Regions from separate parts of the Homo sapiens genome. Here regions 2, 3, 4, 5 and 6 are each reported to be linked to region 1. Evidence: microRNA targets listed by miRTarBase, many of them from high-throughput screens and not tested one by one. Region 1 holds a microRNA gene; each other region holds the end of a gene's coding sequence. Distances are between the middles of the regions.
Evidence for each region. Region 1 holds the annotated microRNA hsa-miR-767-5p (UGCACCAUGGUUGUCUGAGCAUG, at 1,455-1,477, opposite strand). A microRNA usually pairs through its seed, bases 2 to 8, with sites in the 3' UTR of a target mRNA and lowers its output. Matches are read on the target gene's strand: a 7mer-m8 pairs with bases 2 to 8, a 7mer-A1 pairs with bases 2 to 7 and ends in A, and an 8mer does both.

Region 2: miRTarBase lists PAX5 as a target of hsa-miR-767-5p. Seed matches in the 3' UTR shown: 7mer-A1 at 3,994-4,000 and 7mer-A1 at 2,716-2,722.
Region 3: miRTarBase lists RLIM as a target of hsa-miR-767-5p. The part of its 3' UTR that is shown has no 7-base or 8-base seed match.
Region 4: miRTarBase lists OIP5 as a target of hsa-miR-767-5p. The part of its 3' UTR that is shown has no 7-base or 8-base seed match.
Region 5: the mRNA of TLCD2 is a reported target of hsa-miR-767-5p. Seed matches in the 3' UTR shown: 7mer-A1 at 2,818-2,824.
Region 6: the mRNA of FBN1 is a reported target of hsa-miR-767-5p. Seed matches in the 3' UTR shown: 7mer-m8 at 961-967.

Annotation. Positions count from the first base shown.
Region 1 is chrX:152,392,027-152,397,102 of GRCh38, forward strand. MIR767 (microRNA 767) reads right to left here and starts at 1,503; the gene lies at 1,395-1,503. The region is part of intron 1 of GABRA3 (gamma-aminobutyric acid type A receptor subunit alpha3); the gene reads right to left. It overlaps MIR105-1 (microRNA 105-1), which reads right to left and starts at 273; the gene lies at 193-273. MIR105-2 (microRNA 105-2) reads right to left here and starts at 2,466; the gene lies at 2,386-2,466.
Region 2 is chr9:36,836,096-36,841,171 of GRCh38, forward strand. PAX5 (paired box 5) reads right to left here. Exons shown (of 10, transcript NM_016734.3): 10 at 1-4,541. The coding sequence ends at 4,465. Among named protein-coding and RNA genes, the nearest start is that of MIR4475, 15 kb to the left of the region's middle.
Region 3 is chrX:74,587,170-74,592,237 of GRCh38, reverse strand. RLIM (ring finger protein, LIM domain interacting) reads left to right here. Exons shown (of 4, transcript NM_016120.4): 4 at 1-5,068. The coding sequence ends at 798. Among named protein-coding and RNA genes, the nearest start is that of RLIM, 25 kb to the left of the region's middle.
Region 4 is chr15:41,305,070-41,310,145 of GRCh38, reverse strand. It overlaps OIP5 (Opa interacting protein 5), which reads left to right. Exons shown (of 5, transcript NM_007280.2): 5 at 297-873. The coding sequence ends at 392. OIP5-AS1 (OIP5 antisense RNA 1) reads right to left here. Exons shown (of 5, transcript NR_152821.1): 3 at 1,522-1,579; 4 at 1,305-1,426. Among named protein-coding and RNA genes, the nearest start is that of OIP5-AS1, 25 kb to the right of the region's middle.
Region 5 is chr17:1,703,304-1,708,379 of GRCh38, forward strand. TLCD2 (TLC domain containing 2) reads right to left here. Exons shown (of 4, transcript NM_001164407.2): 4 at 1-4,919. The coding sequence ends at 4,467. Among named protein-coding and RNA genes, the nearest start is that of TLCD2, 4.5 kb to the right of the region's middle.
Region 6 is chr15:48,406,215-48,411,280 of GRCh38, reverse strand. It overlaps FBN1 (fibrillin 1), which reads left to right. Exons shown (of 66, transcript NM_000138.5): 66 at 1-2,968. The coding sequence ends at 291. Among named protein-coding and RNA genes, the nearest start is that of DUT-AS1, 77 kb to the right of the region's middle.

The DNA of each region.
Region 1 (5,076 bases):
AAGGGTGAAATGACTTCCTCAAGAATTTCAAACTATTAAATAGGAGAACTGGGATTTAAGTCCAAGCAGTGAGCATTGTGCACATACACTGATGGTGCCATGCTTCCTCATATGGATGTGATACAAGATTAGAAACACAGAGCACAGGAACAAATGGCTTTGGTCCAGAAGCAGACGGCAATGTAGCAAAAGTAGACACCGTAGCACATGCTCAAACATCCGTGGTGCATGAGCAGCCACCACAGGAGTCTGAGCATTTGACCACGATGCACACTCAGGTTCTGCAACAGAAGCTGACATCCAATATATAGGAGTAGATACTGAGGACGAAGAAGGAGGCAAACACACTGTATGACAAAAAATCATGGTGCACAAAATTATATTCATGGTACAGAAAATTCCATTTTTAGTACAATGTAGACAACGATGGTGCATTTTCACAAATCATGATGAATGAGCAGAAGACCATAGCTAAAGGGCATAAGCACATTCATACAACCATGGAAAATTAGCCAGGGCTCACTTAGAGCCAAGAGACATCTTATGAGAAAATAATCATAAGTGGAGACCTCATAGATGGATATAGTACAAGATCAAAACATCTCAATACATGAATGATTATTTCAAATGTAGGTGGCAAAGGTGCATAGAGGACCCACCGTGTAACATGTTCAGACAAAAGTTGATGAAAGCCATTAGTGATATTTGACTGTTTGATCTTGACTTACACAGGTACACAAAAGTAGTTTACACTATTACGTAGCATTTATGCCAAAGGAGCTAAGAGGCATAGATAGATACAGCACACAAACTTGTTTTCGGAGAATAAAACCATGCTGTGGTGCTTACTTAGACAGATATTGTGCCTTATACAAGAGCCACGGTACAGGGGTAAACAGCTTTGTCCATGAGTAGATGTCAGATATGTCAAAAGAGACCTGACACCATATACTCAGATGACCATTGCATGAACAGCCACCACTAGTATTTGGGCATTTGACTATGATGGCTACCTACACAATCCCACGACATAAAGTAAAAGAATGATACAGGAGCAGGTAGACATGAAACCATGATTACCAAAACGGATATGGTTGGTGATTAAAAATCATTATTTTCTTTAGTCTGGGAGAAGATGGCAATGATTAAACGGGTGAAGTTATGATATATGCTGAAACAGCCATGTTGCATGAACAGCCATCACATCATAGGCATTTAAGCATTTGACTGATGTACAATTAGAAAGCCCAGTGACATGAGATAACATCTGTCTTTTTGGAACAGATAAACAATGTGCAGAAAAAGGCAGAAGTGATCTAAGAGTAGAGAGTCATAGAATATGAGTAAATACTAAACTCATATACACGATGCATAAAACACTATTTCCCTGTAAAGCAGTAGACAATGAAGGTTCCTGCTCAGAAACCATGGGGTATGAGCAGACAAGCATGCTGCATGCTCAGACAACCATGGTGCATGAGCAAAAACCTACAATATAAAAGCAGGTGGGTGTGATACAAGAGTGAATAACACAATGAGGAATATGCCCAGATGGACAGGACATATGAATAAAGGAAACATAACACATGAATACAACTTATTTAGGCAAACAGCATATGACAATGATGCTGGAGGAGATATCATGGCACATACTCAGGCAATCATGGTGCATGAGCAACTAACACTAATATTTGACTGTTAAACCACGATGTACACCCAGATATCCCAACAAAAATAAGCTGATGACCATAATATAGGAGCAGATGAACAAGGATATTGAAGAAGATGCTGATAATAAAATAGCAGAAAACGATAGTGCAGTAGCTAATAGAATACTACAGATGGCAACGATTCAAATGACTGCCATGGCATATACTTATATAATGATGCTTTAAACACTATCACAAGTATCAGCATTTGACCATAATGCACACTTAGAGAACTCCAGAATTTGAGCTGACAATTATTATACACGATCAAGGGACACAGTATCATTATCATCATTGTCATGTCATCATCATCATCATCATTGTTATCATCATCATCACTACCTGCCAGGCAGTATTAAAAATATTTTATGTATAATAGCTTATACAATCCTCACAATAACCTTACTACTTTTTTTGTCATTTTGCAGGAAACTGAAGCATGAAGATACGAATTGATGTGTCCATTTCATGAACTGATGTGTCCAAGATCTCATAGCTAGTAAGTGGATAATCCAGGATTCAAATTCAGTCATTTTGGCTCCACTATCCATTATTGTAAATATGACAATAAATGACAATATGCTGTGATTCTTCTGACAGACATGATACCAGATTTTAAAACAGAGCAGAAAAATGAGTGGCTTTGTTCCAGAAGCAGATGGCAATGTTGCAAAAGTAGACACCATAGCACATGCTCAAACATCCGTGGTGCATAAGCAGCCACCACAGGAGTCTGAGCATTTGACCACGATGCACACACAGAAGATCTGCAACATGAGCTGATACCAGGTTATAGGGAGTAGACAGATGACAAAGGACAGAGAAAACTCATCACAATAGTGAAAGACATGGTGTAGAAATTAATATACATAGTACAAAATACTCATTCCCAGTACAAGTAGACAATGATTGTGTATTTTCACACAAGTGTGGTGTTTAAGTTTAAATACGTAGTACAACTTCAATCACAGTATATGAGCACAAATTCATTATGTATGTTTATATTATCATGGAGAATAGGTCAATTCATACATGAAAAAGGGGATAGATATGGTATCCCAGGAAAGAATCACAGAGTAAAAACTGCTCAGGTGATACAAAAAATACGGGTATGTATGGCATTTTGTCAAAAAGAAGATCAAAATAATACAGGATGTTCAGATGAATAAGATGCCAAAAAGCATGTTTTAATATGTGTTCATGAGGTCCAGTCAGACACCTACAGGACATAGGCTATCAATTATGACACAGGTGCAGATGGACATGATATGGAAATAAAACATGGTGTGATTCTTACTTGGGTAGATATGGTATGTAATCAAAAATAACCATGCAAGCAATTAATGACTTTGGCCCAAGAGAAGATGACAGTGGTACAAAAAAAAGACTCACATGGACATAATGACTCATAAAAAAAATAACCATGGTGATTGACTCTACACATTTGTGTTTGGGCATGATATAAATCCAAACGATCCCATTACACAAACTAACAGCTATGATACAGTTAGTAAGCATGATACAGGAACAGACAGCAAATATGGAGAAAATACCCATTCTGCAGGAGCCAGTGACCACAATTCAGGAACTAATATTCATGTTATTAAAGTTATCATTCTCCACACAGAAGGAGATTATGTTTATTTTTTACACATTAATGATGGGTGAGCAATATCTATGATGTATACACAGAGAATCAATTAGTATACACATAAAATACACAAGCAGTTGGCTATCCTTCAGGAGTGGTATCCATTCAGACGCATGTCCCTATCCGATATCCACAATACTGAATCAAGTTTTCAGTTAAGGATAAGATGACAGTGGTGCAAAATGACACCTCATGCCATATGCTCAGATGGCTCTTTTGTTTGAGCATCTGATCATGGTGCACAACTTAACAACCATAAAATGTGAGGTAATGAATGATAATAGAGAAGACTATATCCCAAGACTATATCGCTGTAAATACGCAAAATACAGGAACAGTTGGATATAGTACAAGAGCAAAAAGCAATGTTGAAGTAGGAGCCCGACATGACTGATATATGAGCTAGTAACATGCTGCACAGTGTGATAACCATGACATAGAAGTTGGTCAATCACAGATCAATCTCAAACATCAGTGATATATGAACAGAGAACTAAGCTGTAGTGCTTCCTCGGATGAACACATGCCTAATTTAAAAGCTATAACATAAAAGCAAATGTCTCCAAATGTAAATGCTATTATGGGTTGAATTGTGTTCTACAAAAGAGGGGCACTGAAGTTATAACTCCCAGTACCTGTGGATGTGACTTTATTTGGTAATAGGGTCTTTGTAGATGTAATCAAGTTAAGATGCCTTTATAATGGATTAGGGTCAGCCCTAAATCCAATCACTGGTGTCTTTATAAGAAGGGGGAAATTTAGATATAACAGACAACGAGAGAAAACCATATGACAATGAAGTTAGAGATTGGAGTGATGCTGCCACAAGCCAAGAAACACTTGGGATTACCAGAAGCTGAAAAATGCAAGGATGACTCCTTTGCTAGGCTCGAGAGAGAGCACGGCTTTACTGACACTTTGATTTAGAACTTTTAGCCTCCAGAACTGTGAGAAAAACATTTCTGTTGTTTTAAGCCACCTAGTTTAAAGCACTTTGTTGTGGCATCCTTGGGAAACAAATACAGATGACATTGTTACAAAAGGACTCTGAGACATGTTTAAATGACTGCATGGTGTATAAATATCTCCCCCTGTAGTTTTACCACCTGAACAAAAATCACACTCAGAAAACCCCTAAATATTATCAGGAAGTCATGATGTATGAACTGACAGCCATAGTACAGTGTGCTCACAATCATCTATTATTAGAAGTAGAGAGTAGTAGAATCATCCAAATACCTTGTGACTATAGTCAACATTGTACATGAGGATACTACATTGATATGTTAAACAATGCAACATGCCAAGAAAATAATTCATGAGTTGGAAATCACAACACAATAGCCTTAAGCTCCGGGACAGGTGTATACCATCATGGTAAATGTTCAGATAAACTTTAAACAAGGTAAATTGCACCTAACACAGAAGTCACTGGCTCTGGCTTGATACATGGGCAAATATAACTAACATGCTTGAAAATCATGACATATGACATCATAAACATGGTTCACGTTCATGTGCATAAACTCTTCTTATATAGGAGCAGATACTTATAATTCAGGATCAGAAGGCCATGGTGCTTGCTTGGATACCTAAGCATGCAGAATCATATTACAGTGACAAAGGGCAATACTTCAGGGAAAGATAACCATAGAATCACGCAACATATCATGTTAACACAGCATTGGTGTGTGAGCCAAAGGCCATGGTGCAAGA
Region 2 (5,076 bases), not on the chromosome of region 1:
GACTTCTGGTAAATGGATTTCACCCCTCAGTGCCCTGTGGCCACATCTGAGTCTCTTCCCTGCACATGTGAAAGGTGCCCAAGCAGCACTGACCTCCCCTGAAAACCCAGCAGCTCCCCAATCCCGTCCCCAGCGCCTCTGACCTTCCACCCAACTCCATCTTCAAAGCGCAAGACTTGCAAGAGCCCAAGATGAGGCCTGGGAGAGTGGCAGGCTCTGGGCGTGCCCGTTTCTACCCCTGCCTTGCTGGACACCCTGAAGCACATCTCTCACCTCTCTGGGCTCCCATCTCCTCCAAATCTGCAACAAAGGACAGGAGGTGAATGAGAAAGGGGGCAATTGACAGGCATTGGGGCTCACAGGCTGGTGCCCAGTGGGTCAAGTTTGGCCCATGGACATTTTTCTTTAGGCCGACAGAAAATTTTACAAGTTTTCATACTTGAATGCCACTCAGGGGGGCAGGCACACTTCTGGGCATCTCGGGCACTGCTGCACCGTACTGTCTGGTGCGCTGCCCGAGTGGCAAGGCTACACCACCCCGTTCACCCAGGAAGCAGTTCATTCAGGGGACTTGAGATTGTGATCTGTGTTTCCAGGGGCTGTGGACACCCTGGTGGCCCTGGCTTGGGCACTCCTGCATACTGTCACAGCCAGGCCTGGAGCCTGTTCCAAAGTGCGAAGGCAAAGAAAGGGAAGTGGGGGACAGCACATGACCTTGGCACCTGGACCCCTGGAGTCAGGGCTGGACCCATGTCCAGGCCTGGTCAGGGATTATGGCATGGCCTTGAATTGACTCTGATACCCTCTGAACCTCAGGGACAGCTGGGAAAGAGTCTGGATGAAACCTCAGAAGCACTGTTGTGGATTTGGTCAAAGACTCCGCAGGTTTCAATGTTCTTAGGAAACAAAGCCGCCAACCTGCAGGCCCCTAGGTCAGGCCAGCCTCTGGGTCCCTGTTCTTTCTTGCCTGATTGTGGGTCTGGGGGATTTCTAGGGAATGGGGGTGGGGGAGTGTCTTTAAGCCATACACTCCCATGACAGGAGCACAACTCGGTGGAGAGAGAATGGGGCCTGGAGATCTGAGAATTCACTTCGCCTCTATGTTGCCGTGAGAGCCCCAAATGTCAATTTCCCCGTCTATAAAGTAGGCATCATGCTCTTTGCTCCACAGAGTGGTTGAGGATTGCAAAGCACCGTACAATGTCAGTTATGGAAGGGCTAGCCTTAACTAAGGTGCCTTGGGAAAGGGATGTTGGGTTTGATATATCATCCAATTTTTCTAGGTTGGAGCTAGACTGATGGTATGAGAAATTTTCATAAAATCCACAATGTCCTTTTCCAAAAGTCAGAGCTCGAACACAGGGAAGAAGGCCCATGGAGAAATGCCCCAGGCCTTCTGCCACGATGCTGGTGAGGCCCCGGACTTGTGTTTTCCATTCAGAATTCTCTGGCATCTACTCAACGGCTTGTGTCCTTTGGAGCCATCCTCACCAAGCTCCCAGGCAGCTCCGCTGGACCACGAGGTGCTGTGAATTGGTGAGAGCGGGCGTGTGTGTGTGAGAACATCCGTGTGCATCCATGTGCGCTTGTGCTTCCGCCTGGCAGCCCAGGAGTCAAGTGGTTGTCTCACAAATACAAAACCAATCTGAGGACCAGCAAAGCCTCAGGTGAGGGAGGAAAGGTATGGGGGGAGCTCATTACAGGGCAAGAAGAGGAACAGGATGGGGAGAGGGGGCCGCTGTGAGCCAGGTGGGCTTTGCCGAGGAAGGATGCTGCATGCCTCAGGCAGCTGGTTCAGGGGAGGCTGACCTCCTCCCAACAGCCTGGAACCACAAGGAGGGCAGGATCCAAAGATGTGGGTACACATCATTCCAAAAGAAGGGTGACAGGGGGCAGAGGCTCAAGAAGTCTGTGCTGAAGACCCCTGACCCCACCACTTCCTGCTAAATGGAGGGAGGCAGGGAGAGAGATGCCAGGTAACATACCTTCTCCTACCTTACCTGACAGGTGGAAGCTGCAGCCAGCTCACCCTGGCTCCTGGAGGTGGACTCTGGCCCCAACTACCTCCCTTCTTTGCCCCGCAGGTTCTGGGTGGGGGCGGGGGTGCATGTGCCTGCTGTGAGCTCGCTGGGCTCCATCCCTGGCCTGGGTGACCAGGCTTCCTTGGCAGTTCTTACAGACTGATTGTCTAGGGCATGGGGCCCAGAACCATCTCTCACTGCTCTTACTGTCAACTCTCCTCAGGAATAGGAGATGTGGATAGACCAGGGTGACAGGGAACACCATGGGTTGGGGGTCAGGAGCCCGAGTCCCAGCCCCACCCCCACCAGTCACTGCTTGAGGACTCCACCTTGCTGAGCCTTAGTTTTCTCTTCTGTTCCACCACCCTGTGGGGGACTTAGGGAACAAAATACTTAGCGGTGGCCAGAGGAAGTCTGCTTTTTCTCCCTGCATGGTCCTGGCCTTCCCCAAGCTGGGCCTCAGTTTCCCACAAGGGAAGTTGGGCTAGGTCTTTTTCCAGGCTCTTCTGATTCCCGCCCCTCCGAGTGTTCTTGTTTCCCACTTGGTCCAAATATTATTGGGCCTCAGGTGCCCACCCCCATCTGCTTGCTTGGAAGTGGAGGGCCTGCCCCAGATGATCCTCTCACAGCCCCGGCTCCCTGGAGAGAGGAGGGGAAGGAAAGAGCTGTGGGGTGGCCCTACAGATGACCCTGCTGCACCAAGGCAGCCAAGGCTCAAAGAGGTGCAGGGTTTTGTCTGAGGTCCCACAGCAAAGACATGTGGCCAGGACCAGGACAAGACCTGCCTGGCCTGCTGATCCCAAGTCCAGTCTCTCTCTGCCCTGGCTCTCTGCCATCCTGGTGACATACAGATATGGGGGACATTGTCACCTAAGAAGGCCAAGCCCCCTCTCATCACTGTCATTCAGCCCAGGTTTGGACAAGGGCTCTACCTGGCTGTTCTGACTTGACAAGAGAGACTATGCAAGGAATTAAGGCCCCAGGTAAAGAGATGATGGCACCTGGCACCCCCATGTCAAAATCACTCCCAGGTCACACAGCAGCTCCTCACTGCTCTCCTGCCCCTCCCTCAGGAGGCCTTCCTCTGTCCCCCAGATCTTCCCTGCTGGCTTCCTCTGACCACCCTAGCCCACAGTGAGTTCTCCAAGCTCCCTCTCCAAGTTCCCGTGGCCCTTGGCCGTGGCCCTGACCATCGCGGCCCCTTAGATCAACAGGTGGGCATGCATTGTGCGAAATTAGGCATCTGCCCCAGCCCCAGCACCTCCATGCCCAGCTGCCTGCTAAGCTCCACGAGGACGGGGAGGGTCTGCCCCGAGAGGATGCTCAGAAGTTCTGGCTGTAGGCTGTTTGTGATCTGGGTGTGGGGGAAAGTCCTCTGTGTTAATTATTGTCTACATCACCGGAACAGGCTTGCCCAGAATCCACTTGCTGGGGTCCTGGAGGGTGGGTGAAGTGTCCATGGCAGGTGTCCGAAGTGACCTGAACCTGGGCATGCCTCAGAAAACACCGTTCCAGGGGCTGAGGGAGTAGGGAGAGCCTCAGGCCCCTCCTTGGCTGGGATCAGATGATCTCCTGCGTCCCATCCAGCCCTCACATTCAAAGTCCACAATGTAATCAATACCTCGGATGACATTCTGCTTCGGAAAAGTAGCTGAGGAATCTCCCAGACAGTTTTCTTTGAGTTCTTTGATCTGGAAAAGAGCTGCTGATACTGCATCGGTCCCAGAGAAATGGAGGCAGGAAACCAGGACATCTCCCCAAAGTGTGCTCCTCTTGGAGAGGGGCCTCAGGGGGAGCCTGCAGCACAACCAGCCCAGTGAGACTCCTCGTAAAGATACTAAAGAAGGAGGGATGAGCAGGAGGCTGGGGCCCAAGGGCAGCATCCTCCATCTTGAGGACAGCTCTGAGCGCACCTGCCAGGGTCACCCAGGGCAGAGAGGATGCTCTGCCATAGGTCTAAGATGTCCGGTGATGCACCAAGAGTGCGAGATGCATCATGGGTGGAGCAGTCTTCTCAGTCGGACCTTCAGGCCCACAGAAAAGCAAGAAGGTATTTACATGGGTGCTGCTGAAGCAACAAAAGCAAGCTCTCCTTCCCAGGCTGGGGTGGTTATGATGGATGGATAGTCAGACAGCTGGAGGACAGGCAGGCTGGGCTGGGGCTGCGGTTATTTGCAGGACAGTCTATTGGTTTGCAGAGACCCAGTGGCCATCGGGAGAAGCTCATAGATTGGCTTTTAGAAATAGACAAGCATCCAGAAGTCCAACGGCCCCACCAAAGGGCCCCAGAGTCCCTGGAGGAAGAGAGGAAGAGGGGAGCTTCAGGCAAGTGGGGGATGCTGGGGGACGGTCTCATGGGCTCTCTGGCTATCTTCAGGAGGGCTGGGTGGCTGTCACCCTCAATAGGTGCCATCAGTGTTTGGTGCCCGCCTGGCTCCAAGGGTCAGTGACGGTCATAGGCAGTGGCGGCTGCAGGTGGGGCGGCTCCTCGGGCGGCAGCGCTATAATAGTAGGGGGAGCCTGGAAGAGACGGGAGAGAGCACCGAGGTCAGATCCGGGGTCCCCTTTCCACCAGTCTCCTCCACTTCTGTCCTTTCCTCCCCTCACTCAGTCCGGGCCACCATCCTCTCTCACCAAGATCTCTGTCCCAGTCTGTTCCCCAGATGGCAAGTCCCATCAGGGCCACAACCTGCTCATAAGATTTCGAGGCTCTTCGCCATCTAGAGCTGGGGTCCGGAGCCTGGGGCCCTTGGGTCCAATCCTCCCAGCTGCCCGTTTTAGTGAATAACATTTTACTGGAACACAGTCTTGCCTATGAATGCAGGCATTGCCCATTACTGCTTTACTGCTATTACGACAGAGTTGGATAGTTGCAACAGAGACACTGTGGCCTGCAAAGCCTAAAATATTTACTCTCTGGCTCTTTATAGAAATCATTTGCCAACCCCTGACCTAGAAGATAAAAACATGAAAAGCATTCCCTTTGTTTGGCCTGCAGGTGCTCTGTGAGCTATCCCCAGCCAGCATCTCTGAATTCATTTCCCTCAGGGAAGGC
Region 3 (5,068 bases), 78 Mb from region 1:
CGAGGAGGTTTTAGGCGTACATTTTCACGTTCTGAGCGGGCAGGTGTGAGAACCTATGTCAGTACCATCAGAATTCCCATTCGTAGAATCTTAAATACTGGTTTAAGTGAGACTACATCTGTTGCAATTCAGACCATGTTAAGGCAGATAATGACAGGTTTTGGTGAGTTAAGCTATTTTATGTACAGTGATAGCGACTCAGAGCCTACTGGCTCAGTCTCAAATCGAAATATGGAAAGGGCAGAGTCACGGAGTGGAAGAGGAGGTTCTGGTGGTGGTAGTAGTTCTGGTTCCAGTTCGAGTTCCAGTTCCAGTTCGAGTTCCAGTTCCAGTTCAAGTTCCAGTTCCAGTCCTAGTTCCAGTTCCGGTGGTGAAAGTTCAGAAACTAGCTCAGATTTATTTGAAGGCAGTAATGAAGGAAGCTCATCATCAGGCTCATCAGGTGCCAGGCGAGAGGGTCGACATAGGGCCCCAGTCACATTTGATGAAAGTGGCTCTTTGCCCTTCCTTAGCCTGGCTCAGTTTTTCCTCTTAAATGAGGATGATGATGACCAACCTAGAGGACTCACCAAAGAACAGATTGACAACTTGGCAATGAGAAGTTTTGGTGAAAATGATGCATTAAAAACCTGTAGTGTTTGCATTACAGAATATACAGAAGGCAACAAACTTCGTAAACTACCTTGTTCCCATGAGTACCATGTCCACTGCATCGATCGCTGGTTATCTGAGAATTCTACCTGTCCTATTTGTCGCAGAGCAGTCTTAGCTTCTGGTAACAGAGAAAGTGTTGTGTAATTAAGATCTGAACTCTCAGCTATGTAGCTGATATAGTGATGGGCAAACAGGAATCACTTGCTTTTATGTCCACTTTTTGAGTGGTACTTAAATGTAAAGTAACAACCTGAATTGAGTCATTGCTTTCTGAAGGAATCATTGTCCTTTCTCCAGTTTTTGTTCCAGAATAAAAGGAAATATTTTAAAAGCCACGTTATAGGACCTAAAAATCTGATTTCCGTACCAGTTAAATTGGTAGCATCACTGTTACTGATAATTTATCATATACACTTGTCAATTTTTCCTTTGTTATCTTAAAAGATCTGCCTTAGCAATGGCTCCTTTTTCATGTTGATCTTTAAATTTTCCCACACCATAAGAGAGGAGCAAAGGAAATTACCAGTTTAGACTAAGTTACAGTATGTGTTTCATAAGTGATTAAAGCTATATCATTCCCAGTTATTAGTTAACACAAATTCAGCCACATTCTGAGTATTGTTTGTTCACCTTTCAGACTTGGTGATACTGGACATGTCAGTGTAAATAACACTAAGGTTAGGATCTTCTAAGTGTATAACTGTCTCCTAAGCCCATCACTGTGGCACACTGTAGAGTGAGCTTATAGTTTAATTGAGATATTTATCTTGTGGAAATATTAAAAAGCCTATGCTTGTGTAAGTGAAAAAAAATCACATTCATTTGTTTAAAAATGTAAAGCTATTTTGTAGAGGCTCAGTACTTTTCCAATGCACTGTTGTATGAATGCATTAAAAATTGTAAAGTACCATGCTTAGAACTGAGAAAACTGCTTTTTGTGAGCCAACATAGTAACAAACACACCAAACAAAGTACAAAGCTGCTTTTGTAAGTGTGTAGATGTCAAGAGCAGAACATATCTATAATATTTAATGTGTGAACAGCTACTGTGACATGCAAAGGAAAGGACAGTGCAGAATTAAACCGTGTTGAAGACCAGTGGAAATTGTATAATTTAACTTGGATTTAGGCAGGAAGTGAAATATGGGAGGAGTAAAGAAAACTGAAGAATTTAAAGTTTTCCTGAAGACAGTAATAATGCAGACACAAACTGGTTTCATATGGTGAGAGCAGCCACAGCAGCAGCTTGACCTGGTATTCTACCTGAGTAGATGAAGCAGAAGATCAGCAAGTTTGGCAGAGTTTTGGTTTAAGAAAAACAAACCACTACTACCTAGCACAAGTTAAATTTACAAGTCTGCTCCTCAAAAATGAAAAAATGGAGGAAAGAGACTATAAAACCACTTTTAGCATATGAATTGCAGTTGGTACACATGTGTGTGTTAATAGGAAAGTCTCGAATTTGTGTTGTTTTTGAGATTTGTCATTTAAGGTACCAGTGCACACTTGATCATATTTCATTACTATCTCTAACACAGTCCTAACATCTCAAATTTAAAGACCAGTTGAAGATTAAGGGATTTTTATCCTTTGTTGAAAGTCATGTTGGGTTATTTGAAATTCAAATTTTAATTGTGCTGCCCATATATGAAAATGAGACTGCTGACTCGCTATCTATGGACATGCACTTTATGTTGGTTTCTTAGTAGTAAGAGTAACTTCATGATAACCCCAGTCTTCTTGCCTAATTTCTTTTTTGAGACTAGCTGGGGTTAGGATTAGAATGACTATGGAGCAGATATTTGTTCTTCTGGGAAAAGCTTTAACAGGCCAAAATAGGGATTGAACTTGTCCTTGGCCTTTATCAAAGCAAGCTAGCTACCCAGACGTAGTCAAATACTCTACAAAATAAACAAGTCTGCTTTAGGAATTGTCTGGGTACCTTCACTGTTACCAACTTAGCTGTAAAGATTATTTCAAAGCTCACTCTTCCATGATTTCTTCTGGCTTTCAATCCTATCTAAGTATCAAGGAAATTAACTTGTAAATATGGTAGTTGTTTACTAAGGATATGTACTGCTCTTGCAAGGAAATAATGTCCAAACAAAGCTTCACTTATTTTTTTTAATATAAGCAGATTTCACTGTTTATGGCGCTTATGTAATACATTTTATCTTTTTAAAAATTTGTCCGTGTAAAAGTCAGGATTCCTTTATATTTGTGAGCCTCCTTTTCTCCTTTCCTAAGGATGTAATCTACAGTTTTCAGATCTGCAGGGTAGTCTTGATTGGCTAAAAACAAATCAATTTTCTTCTTGGCATAAAGTGTTTCATTATTATAGGGGTGTTCATTTTAAATAGTTTAAAAACAATTGCAGCACATTCTAAGCATAAGAGAAAGTTATTGACAACAGGTACCTTCCTAATCTCCCAAGACGTACTTACTCATTTGTGAAGTATTAAAGTAAGAGGTAACTCAAGCAGAATGCTGGCTATGAATGTAGATATTGAAGCTATTCATAAACACTGGAAATAGAATTTTAAGCTTTTAGCCTTCAGTGGAATGCACATATTGGACATGTGCATGTGAACACCTTTTTCAGTAGCACTCACGGATTTCCATTCGATTGTATAGAATGAATACAAGTGTTTTAGTGGAATTTGCTACTTAATTTTTAATCTTGCGATGTCCGTGATTATTACATGCTTACTAGTGTTGTGGACATTGAAGACAAGGTCATTCGTAGGTGTCAGATTACAATGGAGAACAAAAATCGTTTTCCCCCCACCCACATCCAAACACCATTCTCGAGGGAGCATTTCTTGCAAAACACCTTACATTTCATTTTCTATCTTTGCACTTTTTCTTAAGTACAGAAAAGTTGTCTTTAAGACCTAGTTTGAACTTCATGCAGTAAGAGGAACAAGGATAAACAATGTTGGGAGTTCACATTGTTCAGAGCATAAGGAAAAGTACCAAAACCCAAATTTTCTTGAATATTTCAGATGTTTTTAAAAACTCACTTCTAGTCTGAAACATTTGAATTGTTTTAACTCTGAGCAGCTGACAAAGTTGAGGTTTTTTTGTTTTGTTTTGTTTTGTTTTGTTTTTTTGAGACAGAGTCTTACTTGGTTGCCCAGGATGAAGTGCAATGGAGCGATCTCGGCTCACTGCAACCTCTGCCTCCTGGGTTCAAGCAATTCTCCTGTCTCAGCCTCTCGAGTAGCTGGGATTACAGGCGCATGCCACCACACCTGGCTAGTTTTTATATTTTTAGTAGAGATGGGGACTTCACCGTGTTGGCCAGGCTGGTCTTGAACTCCTGACCTCAAGTGATGTGCCTGCCTCGGCCTCCGAAAATGCTGGGATTACAGGCGTGAGCCACCATGTCCAGCCAAAGTTGAGGTTTATTAGTACTATTAGAAACAAAATTGAGCAAGTTAAGTTAAAAGTTTGCTGACTTTGTATCAACACTATAGAAGATGAGCCACCTTGTTAATTTGGAATATTTGCTCTGAAAAGAACATGTTAGTTACACCTTAATGGTGTTAATGGAGGTGGGGATTGAGAAAAGTGTTCACATTAGTGTTGGAATGTAGGTAATTGTACAGTTTATAAGACCTTTAGCACCAGGAAATAAAATATGTGTGTGTACACACACAGTTTTTAAAAACGATTGGAATTCATCCAAACCTTAAGATTAGGAAACTGATTGGCTGTAAGTGTTGCCTCAAGTAATGTGTCCCCCGCCCCATAACATGTCTTTTCTGTGCCAAGTATCCTCTCCTAGTGTCAGTGTCTCAAATTATATTTATGAAGGGTTATCACATAATATGCTTTGTATTTAACTACCTGCTTCCCAGGCGTCCATGACATGAAATGGGTGAAGCATCAGCCATGACTTTCGGTCAGTTCCCAAAATACCCAAATGATAGGGAGGTAAAGATTGCAAAATTCCTCTTAAAAGGCCATTTTTACAGCTTGCTAAAATACAGTGGCACCTTATGGTTGTTAATATTTTTTCTTTTAAAGATGGAGAATGTTTTTATTCTTCCCCTTTTCTCCTTTGTTCTTTTGCGAACAAAAAAAATTATAATCTGCCTTATTTGATTTTTTTTTTAAGTTTTACCTTACAGGCTTCCCTGTCACATGTTTTACCATATTAAGTACATAGAAGCCATGTTTGCAGGGCACTTTTATTCTCCTAGTCTTATAAGACTATGCTAATTGTTACTTTCTGAAGTATTCTGTACCTTAGTATGCAAGATTGTTAAGGCACATGTTAAAGTGTCAGGTGTGTTTTTTTCCCTTTAATTCTTCAGTATGTTTATATTCAATAACAGTATTGTAATTCATTGAGTTAACTAGTAAATTGTGTGCTTTTGAAAAAACATGAAAAATGTAAATTGACAGC
Region 4 (5,076 bases), not on the chromosome of region 1:
CTCATGTCTGTAATTCCAGCACTTTGGGAGGATCACTGACTGCCAGGAGTTCAACACCAGCCTGGGCAACAAAGCAAGACCCCCATCTCTACAAAGAAAATTTAAAACACATGACTGTAGTCCTAGCTAATCAGGAGGCTGAAGTGGGAGGATCACTTGAGAGCAGGAGCTTGAGGCTGCAGTGAACTATGAATGTGCCACTGTACTCCAGCTCAGGCAACAGAGTGAGACCCTGTCTCTTAAAATAAGTAAAAATAAAAAAAGATGCCCTGATATCTATATATTTCTCTTCCTAGCTGAAAGAGAAGATAGTGCTAACGCACAATCGCTTAAAATCACTAATGAAGATTCTGAGTGAAGTGACTCCTGACCAGTCCAAGCCAGAAAACTGATCCTGTACCAAAGCTTGAGTGTCAGGTTCAGGCTTTATTGCTGTCTTCAACAACAGGTGCTGCTTAGTCATTTCTTGAAAAAGATTGGCTTCAAGAATGGAGGGGAAATGCAGTTTCTATTTACCTTTAGGCTGATTTTCCAAATTATTTGTGAAGCTGTTTTTAGAAGATGAGAGACTAAGGATTCTTCTCTTTTATAGCTATTTGCCTTAAGAACTTACTTTAGATTCTTATTGAATTCATAATACTTATCTCTGAAAATGTCTTTGACTGTAAATTTAGGAATTAAGATGCAGAGTCCCATGTGTCCTCTGATCTAAAGTTGCATGGTTGGTCTGAAAATAGAGTTGGGCTTAATGTTGACTTCTATTACTCCTGCATGGAGCAGTTGTTATGAATACTAATACATCACTTTTTAACTTCTGTAAAATACAGATCATAATATTCTATAGGTAATGTTTAATAAATTGCCTGAATAATATACAATTTGTCTTTTTCAGTTGTAAACTGAGGTTAACAGAGAAATAATGAAAGCAATGATAAAACGAAACAGTTACCAAAGTACTATTTTCTATAATTTTGTTTTATGTAGCACTTTGAGTAACTTATCAAAATATTAATTTAATATATATTTGTAAAGTGTTAGACTAGGTGCTGGGGATAAAAGGTAAGCAAAAATAGACACACTATCCTTAGAATTTATAATCTAGTCAGAGAGGGACATTCAAATAATCACATAAAGATACATAAAATTACAGGCCTGGCGCAGTGGCTCACATCTATAATTCCAGATTTTCGGAGGCCGAGGCAGTGGATCACTTGAGGTCAGGAGTTCAAGACCAGCCTCGCCAACGTGGTGAAACCTCGTCTCTACTAAAAATACAAAAATTAGCCAGGCATGGTGGTGCGCACCTGTAATCCCAGCTACTCAGGAACCTGAGGCAGAAGAATTGCTTGAACCCAGCAGGTAGAGGCTGCAGTCAGCCGAGATCGTGCCACTGCACTCCAGCCTGGGCGACAGAGTGAAACTCCATCTAAAAAAAAAAAAAGATATGTAAAATTATGACGCTAGTAAGGGTTTTGAAGTAAAGGAACATAGGGATACACGCACATAAAGCAGGTAACTGACCTGGTCTGGGTTTCTGGGAAAGAAAGCCTCTGTGTAGAAGTGAAGTTTCAGCGGTGGTCTGAAAGACGAATAGGAATTAATAAGGTGATGGAGGGATGACCTTTATGAGGTCCTTAAAAGAAGGCCTGCCTAATCAAATTTACTTTTTCAGAATGTCACTGTGGTTGTCCTGTGGAAAACAGGTGGGAAGGACAGCAAGCAGACCACTAAGGAGAGCCTTTGGCACTAGCACAATCAAGAAATTACATATCCAAGTGGTGGAGGATAGAAAAGCTAACTTGGCTGGGATGTAGCTAGCAGAATATATATATATAAATTTTTTTTTTTTCTTCCCGAGATGGAGTCTTGCTCTGTCGCCCAGGCTGGCGTGCAGTGGCCTGATCTCTGCAACTGCCATCTCCCGAGTGTTGAAGCGATTCTCCTGTCTCAGCCTCCTGAGTAGCTGGGATTACAGGTGCATGCCGCCACGCCCGGCTAATTTTTTGTATTTTAGTAGAGACGGGGTTTCACCGTGTTGCCCAGGGTGGTCTCGAACTCCTGAGCTCAGGCAAATCCACCCACCTTGGCCTCCCAAACTGCTAGGATAACAGGCGTGAGCCACTGCGACTGGCCTGCTTATGCTTTTTTTGAGGGGAGGGTGGTGAGACAGGGTCTCACTCTGTCACCCAGGCCTGAGTGCAGAGGTGTGAACATGGCCCACTGCAGCCTTGACTTCCTGGTCTCAAGTGATCCTCCCAACTGTATCCTGAATAGCTGGCACCACAGGTTTGTGTCACCACGCCTGGCTAATTAAAAAAAAAAAAAAAATTGTAGAGACAAGGCCTCACTGTGGGCTCAAACTGGGCTCAAGGGATCCTCACTTCAGCCTTCTGAAGTGTTGGAATTACAGCGGTGAGCCATTGTGCCAGGTCTGATTATGCGTAGAGTTGCAAAAATTTGGTCCTATAAGCAAGGTTGATGCTTTCTGGCAAAAACCAGCCCAATAAAAGCTTTTACTTTTTAAAGAATAAGACCTAATATAGGCCAGGTGCAGTGGCTCACGCCTGTAATCCCAGCACTTTGGGAGGCCAAGGCGGTCAGATCACGAGGTCAGGAGTTCCAGACCAGCCTGCCCAACATAGTGAAACCCTGTCTCTACTAAAAATACAAAAATTAGCTGAGCATGTGGCGTGTGTCTGTAGTCCCACTACTCGGGAGGCTGAGGCAGGAGAATCGCTTGAACCTGGGAGGCAGAGGTTGTGGGGAGCCAAGATCATGCCACTGCATGCCAGCCTGGGTGACAGAGTGAGACGCCGTCTCAAAAAAAAAAAAAAAAGACCTAATAAGTACCACATTGAGTCACCCCTGGTTGCTCTGGGCGACAGAGCAAGACTCCGTCTCTAAATAAATAAATAAATAAAATTAAATGCTTGACCTTTACGTCAAATTAAACTGGCTAGCTTTAAATAGATTTTTTTCAGATTACATGCTCACTCTAGAAAAAAGAGATGTGTGACAAAATACAGAGTGAAAGTATACTTCTTCCCTTTCTATTTTTTGAGAAGCACAATATAGCATCCTGGTAAGTGAGCAGGCTCTGGAACCAAACTGGATTGAAACTGTGGCTTGGGTACTTACTAGCCATGAACTGGAACAATTTATCTGTTTTAATTTCCTTCTATGTAAAATAGGGATAAAAACTATAGTAATTAGAGCTGTAGTGAGCATTAAATGAGTTAATTAATGCATCTAATGTAATTAGAGCAGTGCTTATCACATAGTTGGTGCTCAATGAATACTATTATTAAACTCCATGTATGTGGATACACAGAGACACAAAATAAAGGCAATTACAAATATGTTAGAAAAAGTATTCCAAAACTCCTTATGGCTGTAAAAGCAGCATTACATATTGAGGTTTGAATGGCTGCCTGTTCCATTGTACAACACACTGGAAACTGCTACAGCTAGGTCTCAAGTAACCTGGTCCTTTGTTCTTTAACATCTGAAGAGTACTTTGGCACAGGTCTTTGGAAAGGCTCCTTCTCCCATCATCAGTATGTACTGCATTATTTAAAATTACCCATTTCAAGTAACGACACACAATGAGATTTCAGTGCATTCTCAGCCCATGCTGCTTTATTGCTAAAATATATATATACACAGGTGCAGAGCTTCCAACTTTTTTAACAGTTCCTTTTTACATCAAAGAATTAAATTTCTTCAAAAACCCCAAAGATGCATAGATTAAGAAGCAAGCTGCCTTTTGTAATACTTAAAATAATATTCAATGAAACTCTTAACGTTATACACCAATGGTGCAATGGAGAATATGGAGGACAGCAAGTAAACACAGTGAGCAACTCTTATTCTTACAAGGCAGTAGGTAAAGTATAATGTGAAGGACAGTCTAAGATAATCTTTCTGGTTATAAGAAATGGGTCGGTTTTGTGATAAGTGCCAAGACTGTTACTGTTTAAGGATTGATGATAATGTATTACCAGAATACCTTTCTTATCCCTGGGAGAAAATATTTTTTCACTGATGGAATGACATATCACCAAGGGAGAAAAAAACCTGAATACTGTCAGTAACTAAGATACCTATTCTGACTTTAAAGAAGATTTAGGACTTCATGGAGAAATCTGTGATGTCTGGTTTCCCAAAATTAAGTATTTTAATGTGCCTTAGTGGAATAATCGGAGGAATTTAGAGAAACTCTGTTCTTAATCTTTACTGGCTGACAGACATGCTATCAAGTAATTGGGGAAGACAAACTATATTCAGGATATGACATCTCACTTCATATATTTCAATGGAAACCAAACATCACAGTCACAAGAAGTCTAATTCAATTCTGAACCACTGGAAAGTTACCATTCCACTTTATTCATTCCCAAAGTTATTTGTAGCAAAATCCTACAGGAAAGAATGAAATAAAAAGTTTTCAAAAAATTTTTTTCAATCATAGAATGTAAAACCTTGAATGTGCTTTGTGAAAATCATTTAGTCTAATCTTGAATTCTATTTAGGCTTGTTTCAGACATCATGAATGCCATTTTTACGTCATTTGTCACAATCACTTGTACTTATATAAGGGTTATTTTTAAAGTCAGGAATTTTCTCAAGGAAAATTTTAAGCTACTACAGGCCAGGTGCAGTGGCTCACACCTGTAATCCCAGCACTTTGGAAGGCTAAGGGGGGGCGGATCACGTAAGGCCAGGAGTTAAAGACCAGCCTGGCCAACATGGCGAAACCCCGTCTCTACTAAAAATACAAAAATTAGCTGAGGGTGGTGGTGCATGTCTGTAATCCCAGCTACTCGGGAGGTGGAGGTTGCAGTGAGCTGAGATCACATTGCTTCACTCCAGCCTGGGCGACAGAGTGAGACTGTTTAAAAAAAAAATTTTTTTAAGCTACTGCAATAAATTTGTTTATTCATCAAATAAAATAAATAGCAAGGATTTTCTTCTATTGGAAAAAATAGATAGCAAGGATTTTCTTCTAGTGGAAAAAGTTTCTCCTGTTTAACCTGGCATTAAAAGCTTTAGTCAAGAAATTGCAGTCTGGCCAAA
Region 5 (5,076 bases), not on the chromosome of region 1:
TCTTCCTGTATGGGCTTGACTAGTTAATCCACAGAAACAGCCATGTTTCCCTAATGGTCAAGTTCTTGGGCAGCCTTCATAGACACTATCTATCTATCTATCTGTCTATTTATTTATTTATTTATTTTTTAAGACGGAGTCTTGCTCTGTCACCCAGGCTGGAGTGCAGTGGCACGATCTTGGCTCACTGCAAGCTCCGCCTCCCGGGTTCATGCCATTCTCCTGCCTCAGCCTCCTGAGTAGCTGGGACTACAGGCGCCCGCCACCACGCCCGGCTAATTTTTTTTATTTTTAGTAGAGATGGGATTTCACCTGCCTCGGTCCCCCAAAGTGCTGGGATTACAGGCGTGAGCCACCACGCCCGGCCTCATAGACACTATCAAGTATTACCAAAAGGGACACTCACTCAAACCATCATGAATGTATACCAGTGGCCAAAGAAAAGGTGTATGACTTAGAATCAATTCATATCAACCTCAACAGATATTTAAGGAATAGATTCCTCACATGAGTTTGTCATATTTCTTTTTCTTTAAAAACTCAAGGCAGACAACATTTTTGTTAATCAAGGCATTCAGTTAAGATGGCAAATTGAGTTTTGCAGATATGACTTTTTTTTTTAATTAAAAATTTTTTTTTGGCCGGGTGTGTTGGCTCACGCATATAATCCCAGTAGTTTGGGAGCCCAAGGTGGGCGGATCACCTGAGGTCAGGAGTTTGAGACCAGCCTGGCCAATATGGTGAAATCCTGTCTCTACTAAAAACACAAAAATTAGCCGAGTGTGGTGGTGGGTACCTGTAATCCCAGCTACTAGGGAGGCTGAGGCAGGAGAATCACTTGAGTCCAGGAGGTGGAGGTTGCAGTGAGCCAAGATTGTGCCACTGCATTCCAGCCTGGGCAGCAAGAATGAAACTGTCTCAAAAAAAAAAAAAAAAAAAGAAGAAAAGAAAGAAAAAAGAAAATTTTTTTTTTTTGTAGAGAGGAGGTCTCAATATGTTGCCCAGACTGGTCTTGAACTCCTGAGCTCAACCACTCCTCCTACCTCGGCCTCCCAAAGTGCTGGGATTACAGGCGTGAGCCACCATGCCCAGCCAGCAAACATGACTTCTAGAAGTACAGACTCTGACAAAATTCTGCATTGTTTCTCTAGCTCACTATCTATACCTTTGCCTCTTGGGTTTTTATCTAATTACATTTAAATGCTCTGCTCTTATTTTCTGCTTGTGTTTAGCTCCTTCCAACTGTGTTTTCCTCAGTCTCGATGTATTTTCATCCTTTGCGCCTGTTTTTATGACTCTATGATGGAGACTTCTCACAATCCCTCTCATTTTTTTTTCACACCTGTATTTTTCCTCCTCTTTTCATTTCTGGGTTCCTGCCTCTTCTTTGTTCTTTGGATATTCAATTTTTTTTTTTGAGACGGAGTCTCACTCTGTCACCCCTGCTGGACTGCAGTGGCACTATCTCGGCTCATTATAACAACCTCGGCCTCCCAGGTTCAAACGATTCTCCTGCCTCAGCCTCCTCAGTAGCCGGGATTACGGGCGCCTGCCACCACGCCCGGCCAATTTTTTGTATTTTTAGTAGAGATGGTGTTTCACCATGTTAGCCAGGATGGTCATCTCCTGACCTCGTGATCCGCCTGCCTCGGCCTCCCAAAATGCTGGGATTACAGGCGTGACCCACCATGCCCAGCCTGGATATTTAAATTGTTCTGTGCTCTCCTCCTTTTTTTTCTCTCTGTGATTCTCTTTGTCAGCTCCTTTGCCTATATTTGCATCTCAGTTGACACCCCTGATTCTGACTTGTCCTTATCTTCCTACCAGTCTCTGCCGACCGGTTACTGTCAGCCTGTCTTTAGGGTTTGCGCTGCAGCTGTTTGTCCTTTGTCTTTCTGCCTGCCTCCAAGTCCCCATATCTCCTGGTCTCTTCTGTCAGTGAATCTTCCCACTGACTGCCTCCTCCGCCTTCTGCTTCTCAGCTCCCCGGACTCGTCCCCGCTCTTCTCTGTTCCCACCTCTCCTCTTGCTCTTCTGATCTCTCTATCTGCCAGTATTTCCTCCATCACTCCTGAGCCTGGGTGTTTCTCCTTGTCACTCACTCTATTTCACTGTCTAGACTCTCTGTGCCTTTCAGCCTTGGGGTCTCTTCTTGTCGGCCTTCATTTCTATTTTTCTGGTCCTTTTTGTTTATAACCCTTTTATCAGTTCTGTGACTTTGGTGTCTCTCAGGATCTATGACAGCCTTTCTCCATATTTCTGCTAGGGCCTGTCTCTTTTGCCCTCCATCCTTCTTTGCCTCTGTCACCTCTATGTGAATAATCCTTCTCTCTTTCTATCTATCACTCAATCTATGTATGTCTGTCTCTGTCATTCTTCGTATCTTTCTGTACCTCCGCTTCTTAGCAAGGTTTTTGTTTTGTTTTGTTTTTTTTTGAAGACAATCTTCCTGTCTCTTGCTTTTGCTCATGTAGCTTTTCTGTGGATGGCTAAGGGTTGCCTCTCTCAGTCCATTGTTTAGTGGAACAGCAGACTTAATCTGCTGGGCACTTCCCGTCACCTCGATGTTCTGGGAAGGAAGGGGTCTTGTTCAACAGAAAAAAACGCAGCAGAAGCAGCAGGGAGGAAGAAGACTTTATGAATGTATCTCAGAAAAGTCCCAGCTCTTCCTTTTTTTTTTTTCTTTAGAGACAAGAGTCTCACTCTGTTTGCCCAGGCTGGAGTGCAGTGGCACGACCTCGGCTCACTGCAACCTCTGCCTCCTGGGTTCAAGCGATTCTCCTGCCTCAGCCTCCTGAGTAGCTGGGATTACAGGCATGCACCACCATGCCCGGCTAATTTTGTATTTTTAGTAGAGACAGGGTTTCACCATGTTGACCAGGCTGGTCTTGAACTCCTGACCTCAGGTGATCCTCCCGCCTCGGCCTCCCAAAGTGCTGGGATTACAGGCGTGAGCTGCTGCGCCCAGCCAGAGGGCCAGCTATTCCTTTATCCTCCTGCAGCCTTCTCTCACACAGTCTACCTCTGCCCTTGTTCTTCCATGAAAGCCTGGGCCTGGGAAAACTCTGTACTGGGCACCTTTCCTTCTGTAATTCTAGACTTCAGTGCCGTCCTAAGAAGACAAACCAGCCCTGTGTTCATTCCTCTAAGAATCCGAATTGTCTTTGAAAAGTCAAAAGGGGTCGGGTACGGTGGCTCACGTCTGTAATCCCAGCACTTTGGGAGGCTGAGGTGGGTGGATCACTTGAGTGCAAAAGTTTGAGACCAGCCTGGGCAACATGGCAAAACCTGGTCTCTACAAAAAAATACAAAAATTAGCCTGGTGCAGTGGCGTGCACCTGTAGTCCCAGCTACTTGGGAGGCTGAGGTGGGAGGCAGGAGAATTGCTTGAGCCTGGGAGGCAGAGATTGCAGTGAGCCAAGATCAAGCCACTGCACTCCATCCTGGGCAACAGAGCAAGAACTTGTCTCAAAAAAAAAAAAAAAAAAAGAAAAGAAAAAAGAAAAGTCAAAAGATACTAAAAATAAAAATAAAAATAAAAGGCTAGACACAGCAGGACCAGGGTTAAGGAGAAAAACAGGAGTGTGCGCCTGTTCTCACGTCTGTAATCCCAGCACTCTGGGAGGCCGAGGCAGGTGGATTACTTGAGGTCAGGAGTTCGAGACCAGCCTGGGCAACATGGTGAAACCTCCTCTCCACCAAAAAATACAAAAATTAGCTGGGCTTGGTGGTGCATGCCTGAAGTCACAGCTACTCGGGAGGCTAAGGCAGGACAATCACTTGAACCCAGGAGGCTGAGGTTGCAGTGAGCCGAAATCGTGCCACTACACTCCAGCCTGGGTGACAGAGTAAGATTCCGTCTCATAAAAAAAAAGAAAAAGAAAAAGAAAAACAGGAGTGTGGCTTTGAGAACCAGAAACATCAGCAGCAATTGCTGTGGCCCAGGTTCTGTCTCTTGGCAACTATCACGTCCATCTCTGCTGCTACAGATAGCACCTCCTCTACCTTCCTCCCACTGCCAGAATTTGGTTATAGGTGAGATCTCTTTTCTCTCTGTCCCCACCCGCCCCATACCAGATCTCTCTGATCCTAGTGGGACTTCACCTTCCCCCATCTGTCCCTGGGTTAAAGCAAAGAGCTTCTGTCTCCACTGGCAGTTTCTTCCAGCTGCATGCCTCCTGCCACCCTTTACTGATAGCTCTAGCTGTACCTCTTGAGTTTATTTGCTGGAAAGGATGCTCATCTGATGACGGATTTCAGTGAACAGAAACCCAGGTTCCCACCCATCCAACATCAGCATTTCTTCTTAGATCCGAGGAAGGGGAAGGGATGTGAGTTAGCTGGAAGAGAAACTGAGATTCTGATGAGCAAGTCTGGCCCTCACCCTGATGGGGGACTGTGCATGGAAGACCCTCATCTCCTTGTCCTGGCCCCACCTCCCCCAGCGAGGGGCCCATGGCTTCTCTCTAGTCTTTCAGGCTGAGAGTCGAACTGTTGCTGGTGACAGGTCCATTGTCACGACGTGTCCTGGTCCCCCTGGTTTTCTCATGGCCAGGGCTGGGTGGATGGGGTCGAGACTGTAGGACATCATTGACCAGAATACGGATCCCCAATATGATGCTCATGATGCCCACAGTGACCAGCCCAATTCCACCCAGGGTGACCAGAGCAAGAGGAACCTGGTGGTGCTGCCGGAACAGCCACAGACTCATCCACCCCAGCGGGACCAGGCGGAAGAGGGCCAAGGTGGCCAAGGAGGCCCAGCTGGTCACGCTGAAGGCCAGGGATGGGGCCTGGCGAGAAAGCAACAGCAGCTTCCGCAGGTGCAAGCAGGCAGAGTTCAGTTCCAGGAGCAGAGACACCATGGAGAAGCCCACGTAGTGGCCAGACAGAACAGCGGTGCTGAGGCAGCTCACCACCTGGGAGCCAGGGTCACAGGTCAGAGGAACCCCATGACCTGCCAGCCATCATGTCCCAATAACCCAGGCCTGAAGAAAGAGGCTTCCACGCAGTCTGTGGGGCTCCCCAAACACCTGACCTTTATGCTTTTACCTTTATCCTGGGGCCCTGAGCAGC
Region 6 (5,066 bases), not on the chromosome of region 1:
CGAATCCTAGAACTCCTTCCAGCTCTTACAACTCTGACGAATCACAACAGATACTTGATCGAATCTGGAAATGAAGATGGCTTCTTTAAAATCAACCAAAAGGAAGGGATCAGCTACCTCCACTTCACAAAGAAGAAGCCAGTGGCTGGAACCTATTCATTACAAATCAGTAGTACTCCACTTTATAAAAAGAAAGAACTTAACCAACTAGAAGACAAATATGACAAAGACTACCTCAGTGGTGAACTGGGTGATAATCTGAAGATGAAAATCCAGGTTTTGCTTCATTAATTCACCATCCAGAGACCAAATAATTAAAAGAAAAACAAATATAGATAGGTAGAACTATATTTTCCCCCAATCAGAATCATCATATCATAGGTACAATCTTTCACCAAGTAAATTTGTATAAATAAGCACTATTCTTTGTATTACCAAAGCAAGGTACAGGTGACTACCCTAGTTCAAAACAACCACTTTCTCAGGCTTCTCATGTGTGTAGCTAAGCTACCTTGTCATATGTGTTGATTCTTGAAAACTGGGACGTGTATTTCCATTGGGGGTTGGCCATTTATGCTGACATGCCATCCTTCCAGCAAACGTACGGGAATGTGCTTTCAATTGATGGACTACTCTATTTTTTGCAAATTTGTAAACTTTGCTTCTCCAAATACAAGTACTAGGTTGTCCATTTATGGTACCTATTTGGTGCTAGTAAATTTTCAAACTAGATTTATAAATGCACTGTAATATGTACACAACTTAGAAACCAAATTACAAGTATTCAGTTCCAATACTTCATTAATTTCAATCAACCAAAGTTAGTTCAGTAGCTTATCTCAGTTATGAGTATAATACATTACATGTAAATTAAGTGTGTGTATACTGTAATCGTGCTATTTTTTATCATTGAAACATTTATAAACTAGAATAATAATGCCCTTAATGTGAGGGTTTGTAATGGTGCTTATTAAGACCAAAGACTTGTTAAATGTATACACCAAGTGGTAATGAAATTTCGGTGACTGGCCCACACGTGCATAGAGGTCTGGGAGGACCAGGAAACAGCCTCAGTGGCCAGAGGATCACCAGTGCATCCTTCATCACAGCATGTGCAATATGCCAAGATTACCCTCGGTCATTCCTGTCAACAAGGGGTCAATGTCATAAATGTCACAATAAAACAATCTCTTCTTTTTTTTAGTTTACCCCTTGGCTTTGTGTTCTTGCATGGATTTGGGGTTGGAGGGGCCATTCCGGAGGCTAAATAAAGTCTCCTGGATTTAAATTATCCTGGGTCTCTTACTTATGGCTTATGAAAGTACCAAATGTATAACCACTAGAAGAAAATTTAACATATGAGTCGATCCCTTGTTTTATCCATTGAAAGTAGCAGAGTCTGGTGTCATTAACCTGACTTGCTTGTGAGAAATTTAGATTGTAGAGTCATTTCTGAAACATGACCTAATTCATCTTGTGACTTTTAAATAGTCTTAAATACCAAGTTCAGTCATTGTCTTAGAGCACATGAATTTCATTATAATAGATTTATCATGCCCCCCTCTCAAATATACACAGTTTTGGCAAGCCTTAGGTGTTCTGTTCCATTTTTTTTTCCCCTAAACATCTTTCGTTAGTCAATGCTCATCTAATTACAAAGGGATAATCCCAGACTGTATCCAATTGCTGTAACTTTTGGTTTCTTAATGTCATAATTTTTAAAGTCTGTTTTATTTTAAGTGCAATATTGAGTATTTAGCTGTTAGGCTCAATCCGTCGATATGAAATAATTTTTTAAATCCCTAAGGGCAGGAAAGCATTTCGTGGTAGTGAAAATAAGAGGAAATAAGATGGCATGAAGGTGGTGGGCGGAGAAACTAGGTAGGACACAGGAAAGTGCTCTCAAAAATCTTTGAAGAGCTCAGCTGAAAAAAATGGAGTAGATTTGGCTCATACTATTCCGGAAGGCAAAACCAGGGTCAGCTGATGTCAGCCCCAGTTTAATACACACGGTCCCAATTATAGAGCTACTCACTGAAAGAATGGGTTTCCTTGCATTGTGGTGAGCTCCCTGTCACAAGATAGAAGAGTTTCAGTCTAGGCTTAATGGCAACCATTGGACAAAGATGCTTTCTTCCACCTAACAGGCCATTAACATCTTAAAGGTATTTTTGTATCTCTAATTTTGTTTATAATAGGTGCTCAACAGAATGAGCTGAATGGCTGTTACAAAGGGGGTTTGTACCTTGGGTAAGAGATTAAAATATAACTCAAAATTTCCTTCTAACGCTGCACCTATGGAACCATGTGATAGAGGTGTATTAAAATTGTTATCGAAGAATATATAGCATATGGTAAACAACAGTTTGCATATGGAAAATGTCTTTGATAATTTAACCAGAACTGCATTATATTCAATAACGGATTTTCTTTATAACAAACAACAGGGGAAAATGGAGTTGGCACACAGTGGATCACTTTGATATTTTTAATAGTCCAAGTCTGGATTTTATTTATTCCTGAGCCAACAATTTTGAACAGCATATTTTCCATGTTTCTGACTGTAACAAAACATTTTCCTCATTGTTCCATTGTAAATATTCCTCTTGTTGGAACTCTTTTTAATCCTGAGATTTAAACCTGTACCTTTCAATTGTCTGTGACCTTTCAATTTCACTTTCAATAGTTGAAGAACTTGGCTTTGTAAATCTCTCAGAAGCTTGAAAATATCTTGTCTCTACCCCCTCAGCCCATTTCATTTGCCAATAATTATTTTGTAAGTAGGGTTGAAATGAACTCAGCTGGCCTTGTGAAATGTTTAAACTTGCACAAACAACTACATTTTTGTTCAACAAATAGCAGTTTACTCAGCCAAAATCACTTTGGATATTGCCATTACAAATACTGTTAAACTTCAGAAATCATGTCTGTAAATTAGATGAGCCAAAATAAAGGACAATTGGGTTGATGCTGCATTAGTATCCTTAAAAGTTATATACCCATAAATGTTAGGGATTTTAAAATTACCATCAACTTGGTCCACAGAATATATTTTATTCTGGTTTTAACTGTAGTTCTTAGAGAACTGTATTAGAAATGTAATTATTAGGAATGTAATTATTAAATGATTTAAGGACATTGTTTTTAAAGTTAGAAGATCATTACTGGCAGAAATATTAGTTTCACATTTATAGCTGAAGACAGATATTTACCCCTTGCCAATTTAAAATAACACTTTGTAAAAAAGAGAGAAGAAAAAAAAAACAATTTACTTCATTATGCTTTTTTTGAAACCCAGTATGAGCCTGACATTACGTATGAGTTAGGAAAGGATGATCTATATTATTCTGAGTGTTAGGGTTGGAGAGATAGAAAAGGGCTGTACACTTGACTTTGCAAATTTCCATGTATATTCATGACTGGTTTTATTCACAGGATTGGATCTCAGTTAAAGACATTCTCACAAATATCTGCATAAACATGAGGGTCTTGTACATTTGACATGCATTTGGCAAGACCTGACAAAAATCACAAAATCTGTTGTTTCAACTAACTGCTAATAAATCTAAAATGGTTTCTTTTTTTCAAACAAAGTCATAAACCTTGTTTTAGGACATAGGTTGCTTTGAATCCTTGATTCAAACCTGAATTATGGCTGGGCACTGTGGCTGATGCCTGTAATCCCAGCACTTTGGGAGGCCAAGGTGGGCAGATCACTTGATGTCAGGAGTTTGAGACCAGCCTAGCCAACATGGTGAAACCCCATCTCTACTGAAAACACAAAACGTAATCAGGCATGATGGTGCGCACCTGTAGTCCCAGCTACTCGAGGGGCTGAGGCAGGAGAATTACTTGAACCCAGGAGGCGGAGATTGCAGTGAGCTGAGATTACACCACTGCACTCCAGCCTGCATGGAAGAGTAAGACTCCATCTCAAAAGAAAAAGAAAAAAAAAATCTGAATTATAACTTCTACAAATGGATGTCAGTTTCATTTTTTACTGTTGGATGGTAGAAGGACTGAACCAAGTTATAGCAGGTAAGTGGATGCGATTTCTGGCTAGCTCCACCCTCTGCTATCTCTTCATTGTGATTTTTGATCTTTGTGACCATCCCCATTTCATAAATGAAGGCAAAATTATCCTCTCTGTGCTCCCCTGTGCCCCCTGTGGGTTGGTTATGGTGTCAGCTAGAAGGCATCAAGCCTTCCAAGTACTTCTGGAATCCATAGCTTGGGTTCAAATCTAAGCAACACAGAGGTGGAGATTTTAAGCAAAAAGCAGCTGCTCCATTGAGCATTTCCTAACTTTCATATCCCACCTGATGTATTCTTTGCAGCTGTGCTGGGAGTTGCAGAAATAAGAAGAGATCTGTTTCCTTTTTACCCTGAAATACTCTCTTGGGGAGAATTAAATCAAACCTACATGATCAACCTTTTTCTTCTCCTGGAAATGGAGACATTTGAAAACATCCTGATGATAATCACACATCCCATCAGTCCTACTAGACAGTGACAGAGGTCACAGGCCTTTGTAGTTGTGTCTACGTGGTGAACTCTGCTCTGCGTGGCCCCACCAGCTCTGCTATGGAGGCCAGACCTGTCAGAAAAGATTAATGAGACCTGAATATATCAGAATTTCCAAGGCTCAACAGACTAGATTGGGTTTGTGTCTGTGTATTTTTGTAACTACATGAAATCAGCACGATGTGCTGTTTAGCCTTTCTGTCTTCAGCTGTATGGAGATTATCCCTCTTTGGGCAGTCCCATGATCAGGCGGGGTGGCAAGCTCCTCCCTGAGGCCTGCTGCTTCCTGCGCCTTTGTGGCTTGGCTTCCGTGGGCTCTCTGGTGGGTCATTCACAGGAGGTGTGGTGCCTCCAGCTGGGGAGTCAGTGTGCTGTTTAACCAGCTCCCCAGGAGAAAATGGCTCCCGATCTCATGCCCACATGTTCACCCCCACAGGCCTCACCCCTACCAGGAGAGGACACGGAAGCCAGGTGCACCATCCTTAAAGGCTGATGCTTTCAGCCTTGATTTTTTTTTTTCCTAGCGTCAGTGATTCTTCATT